3 separate regions of the Homo sapiens genome follow, and regions 1 and 3 are each linked to region 2. The links come from fine-mapping of genetic effects on gene expression. A gene starts in region 2. Each other region holds a variant in brackets. All regions are shown on one strand. Distances are between the middles of the regions.

What was found. PIP is the estimated chance that this variant, and not a neighbour inherited with it, causes the effect.
Region 1: its variant is the best candidate, but not a certain one, in a credible set for the expression of ARHGAP44 in unexposed skin (GTEx, PIP 0.62).
Region 3: its variant is the best candidate, but not a certain one, in a credible set for the expression of ARHGAP44 in prefrontal cortex (GTEx, PIP 0.61).

The regions. Positions count from the first base shown.
Region 1 is chr17:12,976,534-12,979,278 of GRCh38, reverse strand. The region is part of intron 18 of ARHGAP44 (Rho GTPase activating protein 44); the gene reads right to left. Among named protein-coding and RNA genes, the nearest start is that of ELAC2, 40 kb to the left of the region's middle. RefSeq lists a silencer at 1,713-2,007. The variant C/G (reference allele first, on the strand shown) is at 1,647.
Region 2 is chr17:12,788,070-12,790,826 of GRCh38, reverse strand. It overlaps ARHGAP44 (Rho GTPase activating protein 44), which reads right to left and starts at 1,329. Exons shown (of 21, transcript NM_014859.6): 1 at 936-1,329. The coding sequence starts at 988. It overlaps ARHGAP44-AS1 (ARHGAP44 and MYOCD antisense RNA 1), which reads left to right and starts at 543. Exons shown (of 2, transcript NR_104607.1): 1 at 543-684. RefSeq lists a silencer at 1,053-1,402.
Region 3 is chr17:13,572,210-13,574,966 of GRCh38, reverse strand. All of the region lies in intron 1 of HS3ST3A1 (heparan sulfate-glucosamine 3-sulfotransferase 3A1), which reads left to right. Among named protein-coding and RNA genes, the nearest start is that of HS3ST3A1, 28 kb to the left of the region's middle. The variant C/T (reference allele first, on the strand shown) is at 1,118.

The DNA.
Region 1 (2,745 bases), 190 kb before region 2:
AGAAGACACCTCACTCTACACCACAAACCAGGGATTTGTCATCCTGATACGCTGATGGTAGATATTACTAATTGATCTCCACACTTCCCCCACAGTGTTCTCAATCCTTTCCAAGAAAATTCTCCAGGTGGCCTTTAGTGAATCAGGGGAGATGCCCCACAGTTGGGAGCCATCTGTCATCCGTGCTAGAACCTACCTGGATTCTGATGCCCACAGGTGGGGCATGAAGAGTCTGGGAACCCAAATCCTCTGCAATGGCTGTTTCTATCCCACAAGAGCAGGCACAACCTGGGCCGGGCATGGTGGCTCATGCCTGTAATCCAGCACTTTGGGAGGCCGAGGCAGGCAGGTCACCTGAGGTCAGGAGTTTGAGACCAGCCTGGCCAACATGGCGAAACCCTGTCTACACTAAAAATGCAAAAATTAGCTGGGCGTGGTGACATGTGCCTGTAATCCCAGCCACTCGGGAGGCTGAGGCAGGAGGATGGCTTGAACCCGGGAGATGGAGGTTGCAGTGAGCTGAGATCGTGCCACTGCACTCCAGCCTGGGCAACAGAGGGAGACCCTGTCAAAAAAAAAAAGAAAAAAGAAAAAAGAAAAGAAAAAAAAAAGGCAGGCACAGCCTATTTCTTTCCTAAACTGATCTAGAAACTCCAGGTGTTAATTTGGAGAAAATTCCAATAGGAATAGAGCACTCTCGTCCACTGAGGTGAGAAAGACTGGGAGCAGGGAGCTGGGCCGGGGAAGCCCATAGCGTCAAAGCACAGGTCATTTTCCTCATGCAAAGAAATAAAAGGAAGATCACATTCAATGTGGAGGCACATTCTCTCCCACTTGGGATGAGTCTTACACACTATACCTAGTTCCCCAAGGGGCAAAAACCATTTTATTCAGAGGAACCAAAAGAGCAGTAATTCCTTTCTCTATTCTGTTCATGAAAAACAGAAACAGAAAACCCTTGCCTCACTCAGGCTGGACAAGGACCTCAGGCTGCAGGTTACCAGGTACCCGGGCATCAATGCCAAATATCTACCTACCCTTCCATCTATCTCTGCCACTATCAAGAGGAAGGCCAGTCAACCAATCAAAAACATCTCATAATCAGCAAACTAAAAAATTGCTTCTTGTGGGTGGGTAGACTCTTCTTCCTTCCTTTGGACACACATCTATCCAAGGAATCTAGGAATGAGCTCTTCCTTCTGTTCCCTGCCACGAAACACACTTTTTTTTTTTTTTTTTTTTGAGATGGAGTCTTGCTCTGTTGCCCAGCTGGAGTATAGTGCCATGATCTCAGCTCACTGTCATCTCTGCCTCCCAGGTTCAAGCGATTCTCCTTCCTCAGCCTCCCAAGTAGCTAGGATTAAAGGCATGTGCCACCACACCCAGCTAATTTTTGTATTTATAGTACAGACGGGGTTTCACCATGTTGGCCAGGATGGCCTCGATCTCCTGACCTCAGGATCCACCCCCCTCGGCCACCCAAAGTGCTGGGATTGCAGGCGTGAGCTACCACGCCCGGCCCGGACACACTTCCTCCAGCACAGAAACAAGTATTTACCCACTTAGCCTTGTCCTCTTTCTCCAGCATAGGTGCAGCTGACCCAGTGGGGAGAGGTGGGGCGTAGGGCGGCTACTAGGGGCGCTAC[C/G]TGAACAAGGCATGTTTAAGGCACGTTTGAGGACAAGTTAGCTCTGAAGATGCATGACTCAGCCCATGACCTTGGTGCCAAGAAGCAGGAAGGAGAATTTTGGGGTTAGCATTCATGCTAAGCAGTTGGGCGGGATGTGGAGGCAGAGCCTGGCTGGACAGAGCCAGGGAAAGAACTGAAGGTGGGGCCTGGGGTAGGGAGTGGGAAGGTGGGAACCAGTCAGAGGCAAGGAAGGGCCTGCCATCAGGGGAGGGGGAGCCAGAACGAGAATCCGGCCACTCGAGGGAACATCATCTGGGCTGCAAACATCCAGGAAACAGAAACAAACAACACAAACAAAAACAATGGAACACCTGTTTGTACTGGGAGAAACCCATGCGGGGAGAGAACAAAAAGTGGTGTAAAACACAAAACACTAACATCCAAAGAAAAGTTACTAAACCGGTCAGCCCGGGCAAAGGGGAAAGACATTTGGCTATAGAGCAATGTGAGTTGGCTTTAAAATAATCGAAACCAGAGGGTGCCATTGCCTGCCCACAAGTAACTCTGCAAGGTCACCCACCGAGAATGTTCCTGGAATGCCTTCAGAGCCTGGGGGAATCCATCTTCAAGGAGCACTTTTTAGAAATATCATTTATATGCCAAATACCATATGGCACTGAGTCCCCTTTCTAAGATGGGAAACTAGGATGAAGCTGAGGAGTGTCCAAAAAGGAAGCAGTCCCAGCCCATCTCCCGCCTGTGGGTCCGTTTCCTCCTGGTCGGCCTCACCTGGCCCACCACTCTCAGACTCTGCTTCTCCAATGAACTCACTGTGCCCGCATCTGCATCTCTCAGGTCCATCTGTGGCCTAGCAATTACACAGCCAGGACCGAGCATCCTCTGAGTTGAAGTCATCAACAGCAACCCAGCATGCCCAGGGTCAGGTGCCCCCTCCTATGCTCTAAGACTATCTAACCCCCTGTCCCTTTGTCATTTCCTGGTTTTACAGTGAAAATACTTTTTTTTTTTTTTTTTTTTGACACAGAGTCTCGCTCTGTCACCCAGGTTGGAGTGCAGTGGCACCATCTCGGCTCACTGCAACCTCCGCCTCCTGGGT
Region 2 (2,757 bases):
GGAAAAATCCCTTCTACCTAACGCTCCTGTGTTCAAAGAATGTCTAGTCTTGGGAGCGACCCACCAGGATTTTTATGTAACCTTAATAGATGTTGGCACCCTGCAGAGCCGCTCCTGGAGTCCAGATGTAGCCCATTTTCACCGTGATGGCAGCAGGCGGGGTCTTGCAGCTTCCCGGGGCCTGACTCTTCTGACTGTGGGGCCTCTGTCCCCCTCCCCTACCTGGCTGCGATTCTCTGCTTATCTCATCTTCCCGAGGACTTGGGCCTCCTTTTTGCAGCCTCCCTCCCTCCACTGAAATCAGTCCTAACATCAAGCAGGCAGCAACGCCATTCCACCAGCACCTTCCTTCCTCTCCCACCCCTCACCCTTTCCCCCCACCAAACGCCTTAAGAAACCCGGCCAGGAAAGTGATCCAGAATCTCGTACAGTCATAGTCCCTGAAAACAAACACGGCGGGAGGGGCAGGCCGACCAGGCCCAGCACTTTCCCTGGACCCGGGAGCAGCCCTGAACTCGGCGCAGGGGAGGGGAGGGAAGAGATCTCCGGAGACCGACTGCGGTTCGGCTGCCTCCAGCACAATCAGAGCAAACACCTGTTTCCAGGAAGACAGGCGGCCAGAGGGAGAAGGGAGTCCCGGGGAAAGGCAGGGAGGACGAAGCGAAGGGGCAGCCGGGGACGCAGGTAAAGGATGCGTCACACTTTGCGCTTGGCAACCGGAGCCCGGAGCAGAAGGCGGCGAGTGAGAAGAGCTCCGGGGTCTGGGAAGTTAGGGAGGAGGGGTCGCGCCTGCGAGCGGCGCCTGGAGGGAGCTGGTGCAGGGGAAAGGACTGAGGCAAGGAGGACTGGAGGCTGGGCGGGCTCCATCACCTGCGCGCCCCTGCGGATGCAGCCTCGCGGGCGCGCACCGACAGCGGTGCCCGCGGGTGACCTACCTGCCCACCGTCTGGTTGGCCAGCTGGCGCATGCGATTGAACTGCTTCTTCATCGTGGCCCCGCTGCCGCGCTAGCCCGGGAGCTGGGGAAGGACGGAGCAGCCCGGAGCCCGCCGCAGGGTTACATGGCTCCCGCGCGGAGCCTCCCGGGCGACGGCGGCGGCACTGCGGAGCCTCCGGGCGCCGTCTGGCCCGCGCGCAGCTCCCTCCCGAGGGCGCCGCCGCCTACTCCTCCCGCCGCGCCGCCTCCTGCCGCATCCCCCTCACGCGCGCCGCGCAATGCCCGGGGCAGAGCAATGCCTGGGGCCGTCCTCGGCACCGGCCCGCTCCGCCCGGGCTGCCTGCTCCCAGTCCCAGTCCGGCGCGGGGACCCGGGAGTCTCCGCAGGCTGGCTGGCCGGCTGGCCCGGCGGTCCCCGTGCGCCTGTGCGGAGAACGCCGTGCATGCCGGGACTTGTAGTTTCGCGCCCCGTGCCCACCTTTCCTCTGTCCAAAGTTTGCAAGGACAGTGGAGTGCGGAGGTGGGAGAAGGCAGCGTCACCAGCAGCTTTGCACTTTAGCGTTCGAGTAAGGGAAACGTTTTCCTGTTTTAAAAATGGCAAAGTGGGACCAAGAATACAACAGCAAATAAAGAAAGTGAGCATCTGTCTCTCATTGTATTTTTAGTGAATGTGAGGTATCAGTGTTCTGAATTCACAGAAGGGAGATTTATGCTAGCAGATACGTGGCTGATAAAACGGTCTAAGGTCACCTGATTAATGATGAGGTTCAAGGTTAAGCTTGAAACACAGGGGCTGACAGCAGATTTTGAACAGGCATAGCTTGCATCCCAGAAGTCTGATTCTTAATTTTTACCAAACCAAACCCATTAGGTAACCAGAAGCCAATATAGATAAGTGACGTTGTGCTTACTGGCCCAACCTGTCTGAGACAGCTTTTTTGTATGGCTTAGATGCCAATCTCGTATCTAGTCCCATTTCCCTTCCACCACCAGGAGACCAAGGGGCATCAGCTGCAGCACCCCCCAAGTGTCCTGCACCACAGCATCCCATTGGCGTCAGTTGACTCCTTGGAAGGGGTTGTGGCTTCTTTGGTCTCTATCCTTAGAAAAAGATAGGTGAGCCGGGCGCGGTGGCTCACGCTTGTAATCCCAACAGTTTGGGAGGCCAAGGAGGGTGGATCACGAGGTCAGGAGTTCGACACCAGCCTGGCCAACACAGTGAAACCCTGTCTCTGCTAAAAATACAAAAATTAGCTGGGCGTGGTGGCGGGCACCTGTAATCCCAGCTACTTGGGAGGCTGAGGCAGGAGAATAGCTTGAACCTGGGAGGTGGAGGTTGCAGTGAGTGGAGATCGCGCCATTGCACGCCAGCCTGGGTGACAGAGCTAGACTCCATCTCAAAAAACAAAAAAAAAAGAAAAGAAAAAAAAGAAAAAGATTGGTGATTGCAGTTAGGTTTTATCATTATATATCAAGGTTTTATCATTATATATCAAGTAAAAGCAGTATTGTTGGGTGTGAGGCACTTTGGATTAAACAGATAGGAGTTCCTGCATCAGAATTCCACATACCTGTTATATAACCTTAGGAAAACAGCTTAACCTCTCCAAACCTCTGTTTCCTCATCCCTAAATAGAAAAATATGCTGCCTGATCTTCAGTAAGAGAACTATTTGTTAAATTACAATAATCAAATTACATATAAATTTTCATATAGTACATTGCCGTATTCATTTACTACAAAATGATTATATTTAGCATAATAGAGAAAAATCCTGTTCATACAACAGAATTACTAATCTTATAAAGGAAGGATCTTCTTT
Region 3 (2,757 bases), 780 kb before region 2:
GGTGGCAAGAGGATTAATTTGACTATAGGGGATATTTTGTCTTCAAGCAGTATTTCAAGGTGAGATGGGAAAGAAAAAGCAGACCCCCCTTGCAAGGGACCCTGGACATCAGTTTTAGTGTTTTACAATTACCATCTATTGACATGGGGAACATTTTTGAGCAGGGTGATTATGAGACATGCCCTTCATTTTTTTTGTGTGTTTTTTGTGTGTGTGTGTGTGTGTATTTGTTTTGTTTGGTTTTGTTTTCAGATGGAGTCTTGCACTCTTGCCTAGGCTGCAGTGCAGTGGCATGATCTCAGCTCACTGCAGGCTCCACCTCCTGGGTTCATGCCATTCTCCTGCCTCAGCCTCCTGAGTAGCTGGGACTACAGGCGCCCGCCACCATGTCCCGCTAATTTTTTGTACTTTTAGTAGAGATGGGGTTTCACCGTGTTAGCCAGGATGGTCTCGATCTCCTGACCTCGTGATCCGCCTGTCTCAGCCTCCCAAAGTGCTGGGATTACAGGTGTGAGCCACCACACCCGACCCACTGTTTTAAGAGTGATAGGGCCGGGCGCAGTGGCTCAGGCCTGTAATCCCAGCACCTTGGGAGGCTGAGGTCAGGAGTTCGAGACCATCTTAGCTAACACGGTGAAAACCCGTCTCTACTAAAAACACAAAAAATTAGCCAGGCGTGGTGACACACACCTGTAGTCCCAGCTACTTGGGAGTCTGAGGCAGGAGAATCACTTGAACCCGGGAGGTGGAGGTTGCAGTGAGCTGAGATCGCGCCACTGTACTCCAGCCTGAGTGATAGAGTGAGACTCCATCTCAAAAAAAAAAAAAAAAAGAGTGATATGGCAATGGGTATATACTGAATTAATTGAGCACAAGGATAGAGAGTACTGGGGTGAGAACTGCATTAGGGAATGGTCTTAGTTTATCTGCTGTAACAGAATACCACTGATTTAAACAACAAATACTGATTTCTTACTTCTATGGAGGTTGGAAAGTCTAAGACCAAGGCGTGGGAAGAGCTGGTGTCCAGTAAGGGCACTCTTTCTGGTTTGCAGACTGCCATCTTCTTGTGTATTCTCACATATCAGAGAGAGCAGAGAGAAGGAGGCAAGCTCCC[C/T]TGTGCCCGTAACTCCACTTTGGAGGCTCCACCCTCATGCCTTCATCTAAATCCAATCACCTCGCAAAGGCCCCCAGCTCCTCGTACCATCACATTGGAGATTACAGTTTCAACATATGAATTTGGGGGAGGGGTACAAACATTCAGCCCGTGTTGTTGACACTCACACTCAACATTGAGCTCAGTCACATGTTGATTGTGAGGATAGAGGGTTCTGGAGGTGGGAACTCTGCCAGAGACACAGCTACTGTCTTTTGGGCTGGTGGCGATGAAGACCTGGACCAGGAAAGACTGGAGAGGAAGAATCATCAGATTTCGATTTCTGGTTGGTTCAGGAGACTAAAAAGGAATCATAAATGATGACTTTCCCAACTTTGCAGCATGGTGGTGTGGAAATGGGTAGAACTGAGGGGGCATGGTTGTGGATAGACAGAGAGGTCAGGTGGGGAGCTTCGAGTTCTAGGTGGAACCTTCCATGAGACAGGCATAACACTACAAATGGAGGCTTGGAATGCTCTGCTTGGAAGTGAGAAGACAAAGCATGGATGGATTGAGTATTTATGAGTTGGAAGGAGGAGGAGGTCTTGGAAGAAGCCTTCCTGTGGGCATTGGGGTATTCTAAAATGCATTCAGAGAGGGTGGATGAGATCTAGGGCAACTGTAATGCCATAGAGGTTGGGGAAAGGTCATTTTAAATGTGGACAGGAAGGAGGCTAAGGAGAGCCAAGAATACTGAAAATCTGATGGATTTGTCAACTAGGAGATCAGGGTGAGGAATCTCATGGTGTTCAATGAAATCCAGACATCAGTGGAAAAACTTTAGTGGAGTTGGCTGTAATCTTTCTTCCAGGACCTCCTGAACTCCAGGACTCCACATAAAAGTCCTTTTCTGCTCATTGGGATCAGGCTGTTAAATAAGCAAGGTCTTGTGGCGGAAAAGGGTCATCTGCTTTCCCTAATTCAATATATACAATTTTAACTTATTCTTTTCCTGCCTCCCATATCCCTAACAGGACGGCTAGTTCCTTGAGTTTGTGTTTTGCTCAATTTTTTATTTTCCTGTGGTTTCTGGCACAGTGCCTTGCACATGGTAAAAACTCAGAAAATAGCTGTTGAATTCCCCGTCTACTTAATCCTGTAAAATAAAAGCATGGGTGTGAAGATCAGGCAGGTGAAATGACCTTAACAAATTAAAACACAGCCTGGACCTCTCCTCTAGGGAGCCCAGCCTCTATGAACAGAAGCCAGAGATTTAATTACAGCCAATACAATTGTGAGCCCTATATCAACCTCAGGATCAAATCCCTGTAGCAGCTCTCGCATACTTTCTGCTGGCCTCCCTTGATGCCCTTTTTTCATGGGTATTTCTTAGCACCCCGACTTTCTCTAAGCCTCCATTTACAATTTCCAAATGCATTGTTTTCCTAGTCCTTCCAGATAGGGTCCCACAAGAAAGTGGTCCGAGCGGTCACCCCCTAGGATGGAAAGGATCCTTGGACACAGGAGCCCAACCTTTGATCCTGCACCTGCCATATGATGACTTGATTTGGGATAAGTCAGTTCCCTTCTTTAGGACTCAGTATTATCCTCTCAAAAATACATTTGATTAAATGTTTTCTGAGCATATTCATTCACCTTTA